Linked DNA regions of Homo sapiens. The gene in region 3 interacts genetically with the main gene of each other region. Each region holds a gene or a part of one and is shown on either strand. Other genes may lie near its edges.

Region 1 (4,112 bases), on a different chromosome or scaffold from region 3:
GGCTGGTCTCAAACTCCTGACTTCAGGTGATCCACCCGCCTCGGCCACCCAAAGTGCTGGGATGACAGGCATGAGCCACCGCACCTGGCCCCAGCTAACTTTTAAAAATATTTTGTAGAGACAGGGTTTCACGATGTTGCTCAGGCTGGTCTTGAACTCCTAGCCTTAAATGATCCTCCTGCCTTGACCTCCTTAAGTGCTAGAATTACAGGCATGAGCCACCATGCCTAGGCATGAGCCTAGGGCTTGTAATTTTAAAGCTGACTCCACAGCAAAGCAACCACTTTAACACCATCCTGGTGTCACTGATGTCCCCGCATGGCACTACCTGAGACCAGGGCAGCCCCACATCTTCTTCAGGTGAGGAGATCCTTCGAGGATTTAGAAACCTGCACCAGTAACACATACACTTGTACCCCCTGTGAAAGACTCAACCAAATGTGTGCAGAGTAACACTGGTAGAGCCGGTTCTCTCCCCTCCCCCCACTCAGGGAACCACTGTCACCACGGGTCCTGTCCCTTCTGTGAGGGCGCACACCCAACCTCAGTGCTGTTGTCATGGAAATCCTGGGACTTTCCTAAACCCTCCTCAATAAGTCTGGCTTTCAGGCAAGGGCGGGCCCCACTGCTGTCCCCATCCAAGGCAGCAGCTCAAAGATCAGCTACTACAACCTGACACGCCTGTGGCAGATGTGGCCTCACTGCCCGGGTGCCTCACAGACCTGTGCTGGCTCAGCAGAAGGAATCTCCCCACAGCCCAGAGGGTGAGGGAAGGAACTCCCCTCTGGCCCGCTCACAGGACCAGGTTCTAGTGAGCAGCTCACAAGCCCAGGACCTGGCCTCTGCCTTCTTCCAGTGCTGAGGCTGCCGACACCCATGGGACCACTAGCAAGACAACAGTACAGACCCCACTGAGGGACTTCCCAGGGCACAGGTGGGACCCTAGGGGAGCCTGGGAGAGGTCACCTCTGGATGCCCTGCCTCTTCCAGGTACTCACAGCACCATCCCTGAGCCCTGGCACTTGCCTCAAGAAGGCACCCAAGGGACAGCGGAGCCAACAGTTTCCTCCCACAGTCACGGAACAGCACCTGGCATTCCCCGCAGCAGACTGGGCACCAAACCCCACACCCAGCTCTGCTGGCTTCTCTGTGCAACAACTTGTCTTGAATCTAGACAAGAAACCTTAGGGCTGTGCCTACAGAAACCTGACCTGGTGCCTTCCTAGCCCCCTCCCCATCCCAGCCATGCTTAGGGCTGTGCCTACAGAAACCTGACCTGGTGCCTTCCTAGTCCCCACTCCATCCCGGCCACAAGGTGGGCATGGCTTCTGCACGACTGGCCCCAGCTGCCACCTAGCATGCCCGTCCTTGCCCTGGGCAGGGACCTGTGGCTGGCCACTCCCTCCCCTGGCATTTCTGCCCTGCTGCCTCCTCCTCCTATTGCAGCACCACCAGCACTGGCTCCTCTTTTGGGATGCCCCTTAGATGTGGGCACTCCCCAAAGCCTCCACATCGCCGTCCCTCACCTTGCCAGTTCCTCTACCTGGGATGTCCCTTCTCGCCCTCCTGTCTCCTTGGCCGGGGCTCTCTATGACCAAAACTTGACCTTAAGACATCCTTGTGTGCACACACAGCAATGCCCTCCCAGAGCCCTCCATCTGTCCAGTTCAGCTCCTTCTTCCTCCACCATCCTCCGCACTCCCGCCACCACGGGTCCTAGGCTGACCTTGGCGCTCCCCATGGGATTCGGGCCAACAGCATCTGACTCTGAGTTCGTGGATCCCTGCCCTCACCTCGCACCCGCCGAGGCCTCACCTAAGCTCAACTGTGGCTCGGTGCTTCTCATCTGACACCGTCCCCCGCCTTCCCCCGCCTCCTGTTGAGGCCAGGGGTGCAGCCCCCGACCTCTGTACAGTCTCACCTGAGAAATCAACACCACCAGATACCCTGGCGCCAAAAAGCGGAACCTTGCAAACTCTTCCCAGGGTCACCTGGAGATAACCGTCATCTCTAGTACCCCTAGGCTGATGCGGCTAAAACAGTGTTCTGCTTGTTGCCCCCCACCACCGCCACCAAAAGCCCTGACACTTTTTAAAGCTACCATGGGTGAGTTCAAAGCTGGGCGTTTGAGGGGCTTCCCATTTTTCCCCAACAGTGTTCTCAGAGTGGCCGTGTCTGGGAAGCTGCTGGGTCCCGGGGTTTGAATTCCGGGGTTCCAGGCTATGAGCCCTACACCAGGATTCTCTTGTCTCAACATGAAGAATACTCCATTTTAAATTCCAAGTGATAACTCTGTATTCCCACAAGTGGTATATATCGTAAATATGAAAACGACCATTGTTTTTAGTTGGTAGACATCGACAAATAGGAAAATTTGCGAGGTCCGAGAGGGACTGCAGGAAACGCCTCCCTTCCTGGCTTCCCTTGCTCCAGGAGATGCTTGGGAGGCACCCGTTTCAGGCCAGGAAGCTCCGTAAAGGCTCCCGGGACCGGCAGAAGCCCCCGCGCCCCCGCCTGCACCCCGCGCACCTGCTCGTGGCGCGCCAGCAGCGCGGGCCAGGCGCACAAGCGCAGCACCAGCAGGCTCCGCGCCAGCTCCCAGGTTCGCCGGCTGCGGTACGCCTCCTGCGCGTTGCCGAAGTCCACGGCGGGCACCGGCGGCCGCACTGCCGTGGCCGACCCACCTCCTGGCACGGCCGCTGGGCCCGCTGCGGGCTGCTCGCGGGAGGCCGGCGCCGTGGACAGCGGGACGAAGCGGGGAATGCAGGGGCGCAGCGCGGGCAGGGCGCGCCTCAGAGCCATGGCGGGACGGCGGTACCCGCCCGGGCCGCTTAAGTGTGCGCTGTTGGTCCCGCCCCGCCCCGCCCCGCCCCGCCCCGCCCCGCTCGGTCCCAGAGGCCTCACCCTATATTCCTGACAAATGCCAGACAAGGGCTTAGACTTCACAAGCACCCTGGCACTTCAGCTGCATGGTGGGGACCCTCTGCCGGCAGGGCTGAGGCCAAGGCCCACTGGCTTCTCAAAGCCTCTGCTCCTGCTCTCCGTGAAGACAGCAACAGAGTGAGACCCTGTCTCAAAACAAAAATTATGTATTTTCAGATAGCTTGAAGGAGAATATTGAGTGTTCGTAATGCAAAGAAATAATAAATGTTTGAGATGATAGGTATGCTAATTACCCTTATCTGATCACTATACACGTACAGAAACATCACTACGTACCCCACAAATATGTACAATTATTATGTGTCAACTAAAAAATAAAAATAGCCGGGTGTGGTGGCTCACGCCTGTAATCTCAGCACTTTGGGAGGCCGAGGCAGGAGGATCTTTTGAGCCCAGGAGTGCCAGAGCAGTCTGGGCAACATAGTAAGACCTCGTCTCTACAAAAAATAGAAAATTAACCAGGCATAGTGTTGCATGTCTGTAATCCCAGCTACTCAGGAGGCTGAGGTGAGGGGATTGCTTGAGCCCAGGAGGTTGAAGCTGCAGTGAGCTGATTGTGCCACTGAACTCCAGCCTGGGCAATGGAGGGAGACCCTGTCTCAAAAATAAAAGTGAATTTTTTTTTTTTGAGATGGAGTCTTGCTCTGTCTCCCAGGCTGGAGTGCAGTGGCATGATCTCAGCTCACTGCAACCTCTGCCTCCCGGGTTCACGCCATTCTCCCACCTCAGCCTCCAGAGTAGCTGGGACTACAGGCGCCTGCCAAGCCTGGCTAATTTTTTATGTTTTTAGTAGAGACGGGGTTTCACCGTGTTAGCCAGGATGGTCTTGATCTCCTGACCTTGTGATCCGCCCGCCTCCGCCTCCCAGAGTGCTGGGATTACAGGCGTGAGCCACCACGCCCGGTGAATTTTTTTTTTTAAAGAAAGATTCCGGACACAAACGGCCACAAGTTGTATGGTTCGTTTTATATGAAGAGTTCAGAATAGACAAATCGATAGAGACAGAAGTCACACGAAGACAAGCCCATAGTGGAGCCTGGTGAGTATGGCACTGGCAGTGGTGCCTGGAGGTGGAGGACGGGAGGAGTGGGAGGGGCTGCCAAGGCCCACGGAGTTTCTTTGGGGTCCGGAAATACTCTGGGGCTAGAGAGTGGTGATGTTTGCTCAAC
Region 2 (3,567 bases), about 31 Mb from region 3:
AGGATCATCGGAGTCTGGAGGTCAATGGTGCAGTGAGCTGTGATTGTGCCATTGCACTCCAGCCTGGGTGTTAGAGTGAGACCCTGTCTCCAAAAAATCAAATAAACAAAAAGCAAAAAAACCCACCCAAAAAACCAAAATAAATAAATAAATAAATAAACAAAACAGAAAATGTTCTTGGTTGGCTGGGTGCCCACACCTGTCATCCTGGCACTTTGCAAGGCTGAGGTGGGCAGATCGCTTGAGCCCAGGAATTCCAGACCAGCCTGGGCAACATAGCCAGACCCTGTCTCTACAAAAAATAAAAATAAAAACAAGCAGGACATGATGGTGTGCACCTGTGGTCCCAGCAACTAGGGGGGCTGAGGTAGGAAGATTCCTTGAGCCCAGGAGGTTGAGGCAGCAGTGAGCTATGATCGTGCCACTGGACTCCAGCCTGGGCAACAGAGCAAGACCCTGCTCCAAAAAAAAAAAAAAATAGAAAATGTTTTTGGGGCCAGGCACAGTGGCTCACACCTGTAATCCCAGCATTTTGGGAGGCTGAGGTGGGCGGATCACCTGAGGTCAGGAGTTCAAGATCAGCCTGGCCAACATGGTGAAACCCCATCTGTACTAAAAATACAAAATTAGAAAAAAAAAAGAGGAAACGTTCTTGACTTAGATAGTGGTGATGGTTGCACAAATATACTAAATGCCACTTTAATTTATTTATTTGAGTTGGAGTTTCATTTTTGTTGCCCAGGCTGGAATACAGTGGTGCGATCTCAGCTCACTGCAACCTCCACCTCCTGGGTTCAAGCGATTCTCCTGTCTCAGCCTCCCGAGTAGCTGGGATTACAGGCACCTGCCACCACGCTTGGCTAAGTTTTGTATTTTTAGTAGAGACGGGGGTTTCCCCATGTTGATCAAGCTGGTCTTGAACTCCTGACCTCAGGTGATCCACCTGCCTCAGCCTCCCAAAGTGCTGGGATTACAGGTGTGAGCCACTGTGCCTGCCTGGCCTAAATGCCACTTTTAAATGGCTAATTTATCTCAATAAAAAATAGAACCAAACCAAATTCTGGGCCTCCCTCAAGCTGGGAGGATTGCTTGAGCCTGAGAGGTTGAAGCTGCAGTAAGCTGAGATTGCACCCCTGCATTCCAGCCTGGACCACAGAGCGAGGCTCTGTCTCAGAAAAACAAAACAAAAAAAGTACTAGCTTCCTCTGGCTGCACCATATCTCCCACCCATCTCTCCTCCCATTAAATGCACCCTAACCTCAGTGCAGTTGGACTGGGACTAACCCGATTGTGGCCTCAGGGCCTTTGCACCTACCGTTCCCTCCCCCAGGAATGCATTTTACTAATCAGGCTTCTTACACAGAGTGCAGGGCAAGTAAGTTTCCCTTCAAGATCACACCATCCAGGGCTCGGGTACCCCCCTACCCTCAAGTCTGCTCACCTGGGGGCCCTGCTGGAGTCGTTAGCAGGGAGGAGAGCCGGGTCCAGGAGGCCAGAGGCGTTGACTGAGAGAGCCACGCAGCGGGCAGCCGACGATGGCAGGACCCTCATGGTCTGCTCGCTGGGTGGGTACAGCGTGGCGCCCAAGGCCACCCACAGCGACAGCGCCAAGCCCGCGCCTAGTCCCGCGAGGACGCCCTGGGGGCAGAGCCGGCGTCAGGGAAGGGGAGGGGCCTGTCCGGCCCCGCCCCTCCCCGCCCCTTGCCCCGCCCCCACTCACCGGTGTGTTGCAGGCCGGCAGGAACATTCCCAAGATGAAGGCTCCCAGCAGGGGGCCGCTGATGACTCCCATGACGGTGAAGGAGCCCTGGGAGAGTAGGTGGAAGTGGGGCTGAGGGCGGAGCCCTCCCACCGCTCTGGGCCTCAGTTTACCCGCTGGGAAAGCGAGACCTCAGGAACTCCAATGTGGGTCTCAAGGACTCCTCTGTGTCTCAGTTTCCCTAAAGGGGAGAGGACCCCCCCCCCTTGTTCCTGCCTATCTCCCTTGGGTTGGAGGCAAAGACACTGATTATCTCTTGGGGGTGGCAGTCCCACCCTCAAGCCAGGGAGACCCTTTCTTCTTCTTTTTTTTTTTTAGACAGAGTCTCACTTTGCTGTCCAGGTTGGAGTGCAGTGGCGCGATCTTGGCTCACTGCAACCTCCATAGGGAGGCCCTTTCTGTCGCCACCTCCCCCTTCCCAATTCCCCCACCCCAAGCCAGCCAGCTGCAAAAAAGTCCCCTGATGGCCTCTGGCATCAAATAGAACTTAGTTCTTAATCTCAGCGACTTGGAAGGCTGAGGCGGGTGGTTGCTTGAGGCCAGGAGTTCAAGACAAGCCTAGGCACGAAGCGAGACCCTGTCTCTAAAAACAAGTTTTAAAATTAGCCAGGCCAGGCGTGGTGGCTCACACCTGTAATCCCAACACTTTGGGAGGCAGAGGCGGGTGGATCACTTGAGGTCAGGAGTTCGAGACCAGACTGGCCAACATGGTGAAGTCCCATCTCTAATAAAAATACAAAAATATAAGCTGGGCGCGGTGGCTCACGCCTGTAATCCCAGCACTTTGGGAGGCCGAGGAGGGCGGATCACGAGGTCAGGAGATCGAGACCATCCTGGCTAACACGGTGAAACCCCATCTCTACTAAAAATACAAAAAATTAGTCAGGCGTGGTGGCGGGCGCTTGTAGTCCCAGCTACTCGGGAGGCTGAGGCAGGAGAATGGCGTGAACCCAGGAGGCTGAGCTTGCAGTGAGCCAAGATGGTGCCACTGCACTCCAGCCTGGGCAACAGAGCGAGACTCCGTCTCAAGAAAAAAAAATACAAAAATATTAGACGGGCATGGTGGCATGCACCTGTAATCCCAGCTACTCTGGAGGCTGAGGCAGAATTCCTTGAACCCAGGGGGTGGAGGTTGCAGCGAGCTGAGATCATGCCACTGCACTCCAGCCTGGGCAACAGAGTGACACTCCACCTCAAAAAAAAAAAAAAAAGAAAAAAGAAAAAAATTAGCCAGGCATGGTGGCACACACCTGTAACTCCAGCTACTTGGGAGATTGAGGTGGAAGGATGGCTTGAACCCAGGAGCTGGAGGTTGCAGTGAGCTATGATCGGGCCTCTGCTCACCAACCTGGGACAACACAGTGAGACCCCATCTCAAAAAAAAAAAAAACATAGAAGTGAGTTCTGCCACTGACACATGTGACCTCTCTGAGCCTCAGTTTAATGGGAAAGAGGGAAAGGTGCCCCCACCTCTCAGGAGACCAGGGCAGGGGGCAGGTGGGGTCTCACCTGAAGGACACCTCCTCCGAGCAGTGAGGACAGGGCTGCCACGGTGAGACAGGCCGATCCGTAGATGAGTGCTGTAGTGGATGAGGATGGCACGGTCAACGGGGAGGGACTGCCCTGGCCTCCCACCCAGGTCTCCCTGAAACTCACAGAGCCCCTTGGAGATAATCACGAGTTTCCTGGGTGCCAGGCTCCGCAGCCGAGGTTTGATGAGGTCTTCTACAGTGACTGCAGCCATAGCATTGATGCTGGTGGATGCTGTGCTGTGTGAGGAAGGCAGCGGGGGGTCCTCAGGCCATATG
Region 3 (3,567 bases):
TCACAGGGCAGGCCAGGCCAGGCCACTCTGTCTCTCTCAACCTCACGCCCCAACGCCTCCCCACAGGGCTGGGGAAAGAGGCCTTGTGAGGTCAAAGGTCACCAGAGAGGGCCCAGCCTGCTGGACACAGCCAGACCTGCTCTTCCTACTCCCCTCTGGGAGGACCCGCCTGAGCCTCATGCAGTGAGGACTGCAGTGGCTCCCCAGGCCCCTGTAGCTGCCCCTCAGCCCCAGGGGCTGAAGGGAATTGGAGTCACTGCCAAAATGGGTTTGTATTTCAGGTAATCAGAGCCCAGTTGATCGAATACCTTCAGAGAATAAGCACCTGTACTCCTGGGTCTGGCGGAGGAGGGGCTGGGGAACTGGACTCCTGGGTCTGAGGGAGGAGGGGTGGGGCCTGTACTCCTGGATGTAAGGGAGGAGGGTCTGAGGCCTGGACTCCAGGGTCTGAGGGAGGAGGGGCTGGGGGCCCAGACTTCGGGTCTGAGGGAGGAGGCAGCTAGAGTCTGGACTCTTACTTAGGTCTGAGGGAGGCGGGCCTGGGGTCTGCACCCCTGAGCTCTGGGGGAGCAGGACCTGTCGGTCCTTGGTCTTCTAAGGCCTGTCAGCACTTGGGTACCCGGAGGCCTTCACTTACCTGTGTGCCTTCCCTGGTTGTTTTCTTGTCTGAGCTGATCTCCAGGCTGCGACCAAAGGTCTCTGGGGTGGGAGGCGCTTGCGTTTGACTTTGCCGCAGCATGGAGGAGGGGGCGGGAGCTGACTCAGCTCTTTCCAGCGAGCCCTCGTCAGGGCAGGGAGGGGACTTGGCCTCCTTCAGGACCACCTGCCCCGTCTAGAATGGACTGAAACTGGGACAGAACAGGCAGGCCAGTGGGACCTCCAAGTGCAGGAGGTGGCGAGCGAGCTGCCAGGGCCCCTGCTGTGCCCCACTCACCCCCTCTCTCACTTCTTTCTCCACCCAGATCTGGGCACGAAAGCTTCTCTCTGTCCCTTGGCTTCTGTGTGGTCCCAGAAGATATGCCTCCTCCAGTTTCAAGGTGAAAGGAGGGAACTCGATGCTTGGCTCTGAGAGAGGAGGGGGCTGGCAGCTGGTTTTGGGCATCTCCAAAAGGTCCACAGCCCAGAGATGGCAGTGAGTGGTGGTAGCTTAACAGCCTGCCATTGGGCCGCAGACAAGGGATGAAACTGCATGTCCCAGAATCCTCCAGGGTGACAGGTCCTTCTTCTCTATGGGTCTGAGGCCCAGGGCTTCATGGGAGTTGTAGTTTTTCAGCTGGGAGGTTGTGGCCAGATTCTAGGATACCCCTGTCTTTCCTCAGGCTGCAGACCTGCAGCTGGAAATGACACAGAAGCCTCATAAGAAGCCTGGCCCCGGCGAGCCCCTGGTGTTTGGGAAGACATTTACCGACCACATGCTGATGGTGGAATGGAATGACAAGGGCTGGGGCCAGCCCCGAATCCAGCCCTTCCAGAACCTCACGCTGCACCCAGCCTCCTCCAGCCTCCACTACTCCCTGCAGGTGGCATGGCGGCCGGCCTCTCTCCCTGTCCCTGTCTGCATCTCCTCCTCCTTGCTGTGTCTCTTGCCAGGTGTACCTCTCTTGGTTTGTTTGTTGTGTGTTTCTCCTTTCTGTGCATTCACCATTTGTTTTCTGAGGCCTTCCATGCTCCAGGCTCATGCTTGGTGATGCTGGGTTCCCCGAGATGAGCAGACCCGGTTCCTTCACTTGGAAAACCCCATGCTGTGGGCATAACTCAGTATGATCTGTGCTCTGATGGAGGCCCTGTGGAGGCCAGTAGAGACCCCCAGCCTCACTTGAAAGAAAGCATGGCTTCTTCTGGCATAGAGGGAAGCTTAGAGGGGGATGGTGGGAGAGGTGACAGGGTGATGGTAGGAAAGGGGACAGCCGGGGGGCTGGCGGGAGAGGGACAGCCAGGATGATCGCGGGAGAGGGGACAGCCATTGGGGGGGGAGATGGTGGGGGAGGGCACAGCCAGGGGGATGGCTGGAGAGGGGACAGCCAGGGGAGGGATGGCGGGAGAGGGGACAGTCAGGGGAGGGATGGCGGGAGAGGGGACAGCCAGGGGAGGGATGGCGGGAGAGGGGACAGCCAGGGGAGGGATGGCGGGAGAGGGGACAGCCAGGGGAGGGATGGCGGGAGAGGGGACAGCCAGGGGAGGCATGGTGGGAGAGGGGACAGCCAGGGGAGGGATGGCGGGAGACGGACAGCCGGGGGAGGGATGGCGGGAGACGGACAGCCGGGGGAGGGATGGCAGGAGAGGGACAGCCGGGGGAGGGATGGCGGGAGAGGGACAGCCGGGGAAGTGATGGTGGGAGAGGGCCAGCCGGGGGAGGGATGGCAGGAGAGGAGACAGCCCAGGGGGGATGGCGGGAGAGGGGACAGTTGGAGATGGCGGGAAGGGGGACAGTCGGTGGGGGATGGCAGGAGTGGAGACAGCCAATCCAAACCCCAAACGGGAGTAGAGCCTGGTACATTTGGGAGAAATTGCGGTGTTGGAGCATGGTTAAGGAGGCTGAAAATGTCAGGGCCATGGAGGAGCTGAGGGGCTGGGGCCTTGTCCAAGGGTGCTGGGAGCCACTGAGGGCTCTGAGGAAGGGAGGGGCAGGGCCATGTCTGGGTATAGTAAGAGCCCTCTCAGGCCATGTGGAGGGCAAGAGTTGCAGGCTAGGAAGCCGGGCTGGTGACCAGGTAGACCTTGGGCCTGTCCCCACATGGGGACCCAGGAGGAGGAGCGGCTTTGTGGCACCTGGTGAGCCTGAGATACTGTGAAGTTTCTAGGAGACAGATCCAGGAGGCATTTGGTTTTAGGACTTATAGCTGCGGCTGAAAGCAAGGTCTTCAGAAGGAAACTTTGGTTGAGACAAGATTTAAGTGAGCATCTTACAGCTCCAGTAACTGGTTAGCAGGTTGGCTGATTTTAGTCCTCCAGGGCACAGTTCTGTGGCATGAAGACTTTTATTCCATTCCTTTCTTTCCTTTCCCTCCCTCCCTCTGTTTTTTCCTTTCTTCCTTCCTTTCCAGAATTTTAAGGTTTTGTTTTTTCCCCTCTCCCCTCCCACTCTGGACATCTAAGCAACACCAGTCGATTCTGTACAGAGCACACACACCTCCAATCACAGCCAGACACTCCTGCCAGTACATAAGCGTGATGGGCAGGATTCCGCCTGCTGAGCCCCCAGGAAGCTGGTTACTTGGAGACCACCACACACTTCTCCCTTCAGCCCAGCACAGCAGTTGTCCTCTGGCTGGGGACCCAGTACTTTTTCTTCAGCTGAGTGAGAGCAGAGGAAGCCTGTGGCCCTGGCAGACAGAACGCACTGCTGTGATCCCGCGGGTCCAGGGGGCGGAAGGGGGAGGATGAGGGAGTAGGACAATGCTGTCCCTATGTCACCCACACTCCAGGGCATGTGTGGATTGCAGGCCGACCACGTGTATTATTTTTTATTTTATTTTTTCTTATTTATTTATTTAGAGACAGAGTCTCACTCTGTCCCCCAGGTTGGAGTGCAATGATACAATCTCGCTCACTGCAACCTCCGCCTCC
Region 4 (2,400 bases), on a different chromosome or scaffold from region 3:
TGACACCTACTTCTTCAAGGGCGCCCACTACTGGCGCTTCCCCAAGAACAGCATCAAGACCGAGCCGGACGCCCCCCAGCCCATGGGGCCCAACTGGCTGGACTGCCCCGCCCCGAGCTCTGGTCCCCGCGCCCCCAGGCCCCCCAAAGCGACCCCCGTGTCCGAAACCTGCGATTGTCAGTGCGAGCTCAACCAGGCCGCAGGACGTTGGCCTGCTCCCATCCCGCTGCTCCTCTTGCCCCTGCTGGTGGGGGGTGTAGCCTCCCGCTGATGGGGGGAGCCATCCAGACCGAACAGCGCCCTCCACGGCCGAGTCCCCCGCCGCTGGACCTGGTCGGGGGTTGTGAGGCGCTGCGGAGGCCCCTTGTCTGTTCCCACGGACGGGGGCTCGGGCGCGGACTAAGCAGGGGGGATCTCCCGCGCAGGGGCGGCGGCGGCGGGGACCGGTCGCCTGGCGCTGGGCTCAGTCTCCTCAGGGTCTGAGACCCCGGCGCTGCCACCGGAACCCGCCTTCAGGGGCGCACGCGCGCTGGGACCATGCGTCGGTCGTCGCCCCCGTCGTTCCCTCCCGGCTGCCGCCAGGGGGCGGTCGGACCCCGCCTCCCGAGCCCGGGGAGGGGCGGGGAGGACAAGGGGCGGGCCCGCGGCCTCACCCGGAGGGACGGCAGCCCCGGTCGCGCGCTGGCCCCGCAGGACCTTCCTTTTCCAGGAAGAGCCAGCTTTTCTCGGAGCGCAGTCCTGGGACTCTCCGCAGCCCCGCCCCGCCTGGCCACTGCGTCTGGCATTCCTGGGTCGTTAGAGGACAGGCCTGACTGCGAAGCTGTGCCTTGCCCCTCTCCCACCCGCAGTTTCTCACCCCGTTCTGCTCCCACAAGGCCCCCCTACAGTCACTGCCACACTGGTGGGGACCTGGGACCCAGACCCGGAACCAGCCCAGATATCACCCCTGAGGACCCATGCGCCACGTCCTGGGTGGTGGAATCAGTGGCTGGAGGGACGACCCTTGCTCTCCAGGCTGTTAACCTTTTCCGTTGCTCCCCCGCCACCCACCTCCTCCTCCCCAGGCCACCCAACTTGGGCACCTCCCTGGGCCCAGAACTGCCTTCCATTCAATGGGGAACCCTTCTATCCCCAAGAACCCCTTCCCTGCTTGCACCCTGGAGAGAACAGCTTGACTCCCATCAACTCAACGCTGGTGGAAAGACAGGGACCGAACCCTGGCTCAGGCCTGGTCATTGCCTCCTCAGCACTCCCTCCTGGGAGGCCTTAGCTCTAGAGTGAGGGGTGGGTGGAACCTGGGGGCACCTCGTTCACCCTGTCCCCACTCCCCACAGTTTTAGGATCTAAATGATTGCCTCTGGAACTATTCTTCTAGACTATCCCACATCAGAATCACTGGGAAATTTAAGTTTGCAGATCCCACACTCACCCTGAATCCTCACTCAGGGTGGGGTCAGGAATCTGCATTTTAACTAGTCGCGGGGATTGTGGGGGGCAGTAGCTGGCTGTTTCGTGGCATTTCTGTGGCTCTGCAGTGTTCCTCCACCCCAGGACCAATATGTTCAGGCCACACCGATGGCCTGAACCCCATGGGTAGAGTCACTTAGGGGCCACTTCCTAAGTTGCTGTCCAGCCTCAGTGACCCCCTAGTGCTTCCTGGAGCTGAGGCTGTGGGCGGCTGTCCCAGCAACCATGCGAGGGGTTGCCCCAGTTGCTCATACAAACAGATCAGCATGAGGACAGAAGGCAGGAGACTTTGGTCAGTTACCTGGGAATTCTGGGCTGCCAGGAAACGATTTGGGCCTCTGTCAGTTTCTTTTCCATGTATGAGGAGGGGGAAATTTGTATATTAGAAACTTATTCATCCCACTCAGGACAATAAAAACGAATGTACAAAAAGCCCTTCCATTCTTCTGAGCATTGATGGACCTGGGGAGAAGTGTGGTGGCAGGAACTGGACTGACCTGAATCTCCCTGCTTCGCAGAAGGAATCCATGGTTGATGGGGAATCTAAGAAGGAAGAGTGGGCCCGGGCGTGGTGGCTCATGCCTTAATCCCAGCATTTTGCGAGGCCCAGGCAGACGGATCATTTGAGGTCAGGAATTTGAGACCAGCCTGGCCAACACTGAAATCCCATCTCCACTAAAAATAGAAAAAAAATTAGCCAGGCATGGTGGTGCATGTCTGTTATCCCAGCTGCTAAGGAGGCTGGGACAGGATAATCACTTGAACCCGGGAGAGGGAGGTTGCAGTGAGCCAAGATCTCACGATTGCACTCCAGCCTGGCCAAAAGAGCGAGACTCCGTCTCAAAAATAAAAATAAAAATAATAATAATAAGAAGAAAGAAGAGTGGGAGGACGAAGTAGAGAGGAATCGAAAAGTTGGTTATGGGGCACCCG

Evidence for each region.
Region 1: changes in BCAT2 (region 3) and PRODH together harm fitness more than expected from each alone (negative genetic interaction), as found in Homo sapiens cells (one large-scale study listed by BioGRID).
Region 2: changes in BCAT2 (region 3) and SLC5A5 together harm fitness more than expected from each alone (negative genetic interaction), as found in Homo sapiens cells (one large-scale study listed by BioGRID).
Region 4: changes in BCAT2 (region 3) and MMP25 together harm fitness more than expected from each alone (negative genetic interaction), as found in Homo sapiens cells (one large-scale study listed by BioGRID).

What each region holds. Positions count from the first base shown.
Region 1 is NC_000022.11:18,933,486-18,937,597, forward strand, and holds the start of PRODH (proline dehydrogenase 1, mitochondrial isoform 1 precursor), read right to left. Parts: upstream 2,809-4,112; 5' UTR 2,803-2,808; coding exon 2,530-2,802; intron 1-2,529. UniProt on the Homo sapiens protein: Converts proline to delta-1-pyrroline-5-carboxylate.
Region 2 is NC_000019.10:17,881,921-17,885,487, reverse strand, and holds part of SLC5A5 (sodium/iodide cotransporter), read right to left. Parts: intron 3,529-3,567; coding exon 3,416-3,528; intron 3,340-3,415; coding exon 3,269-3,339; intron 1,808-3,268; coding exon 1,721-1,807; intron 1,639-1,720; coding exon 1,442-1,638; intron 1-1,441. UniProt on the Homo sapiens protein: Sodium:iodide symporter that mediates the transport of iodide into the thyroid gland. Can also mediate the transport of chlorate, thiocynate, nitrate and selenocynate.
Region 3 is NC_000019.10:48,804,470-48,808,036, reverse strand, and holds part of BCAT2 (branched-chain-amino-acid aminotransferase, mitochondrial isoform a precursor), read left to right. Parts: exon of another isoform or gene 1-668; intron 669-962; coding exon 963-1,037; intron 1,038-1,319; coding exon 1,320-1,520; intron 1,521-3,567. UniProt on the Homo sapiens protein: Catalyzes the first reaction in the catabolism of the essential branched chain amino acids leucine, isoleucine, and valine. May also function as a transporter of branched chain alpha-keto acids.
Region 4 is NC_000016.10:3,058,828-3,061,227, forward strand, and holds the end of MMP25 (matrix metalloproteinase-25 preproprotein), read left to right. Parts: coding exon 1-271; 3' UTR 272-1,899; downstream 1,900-2,400. UniProt on the Homo sapiens protein: May activate progelatinase A.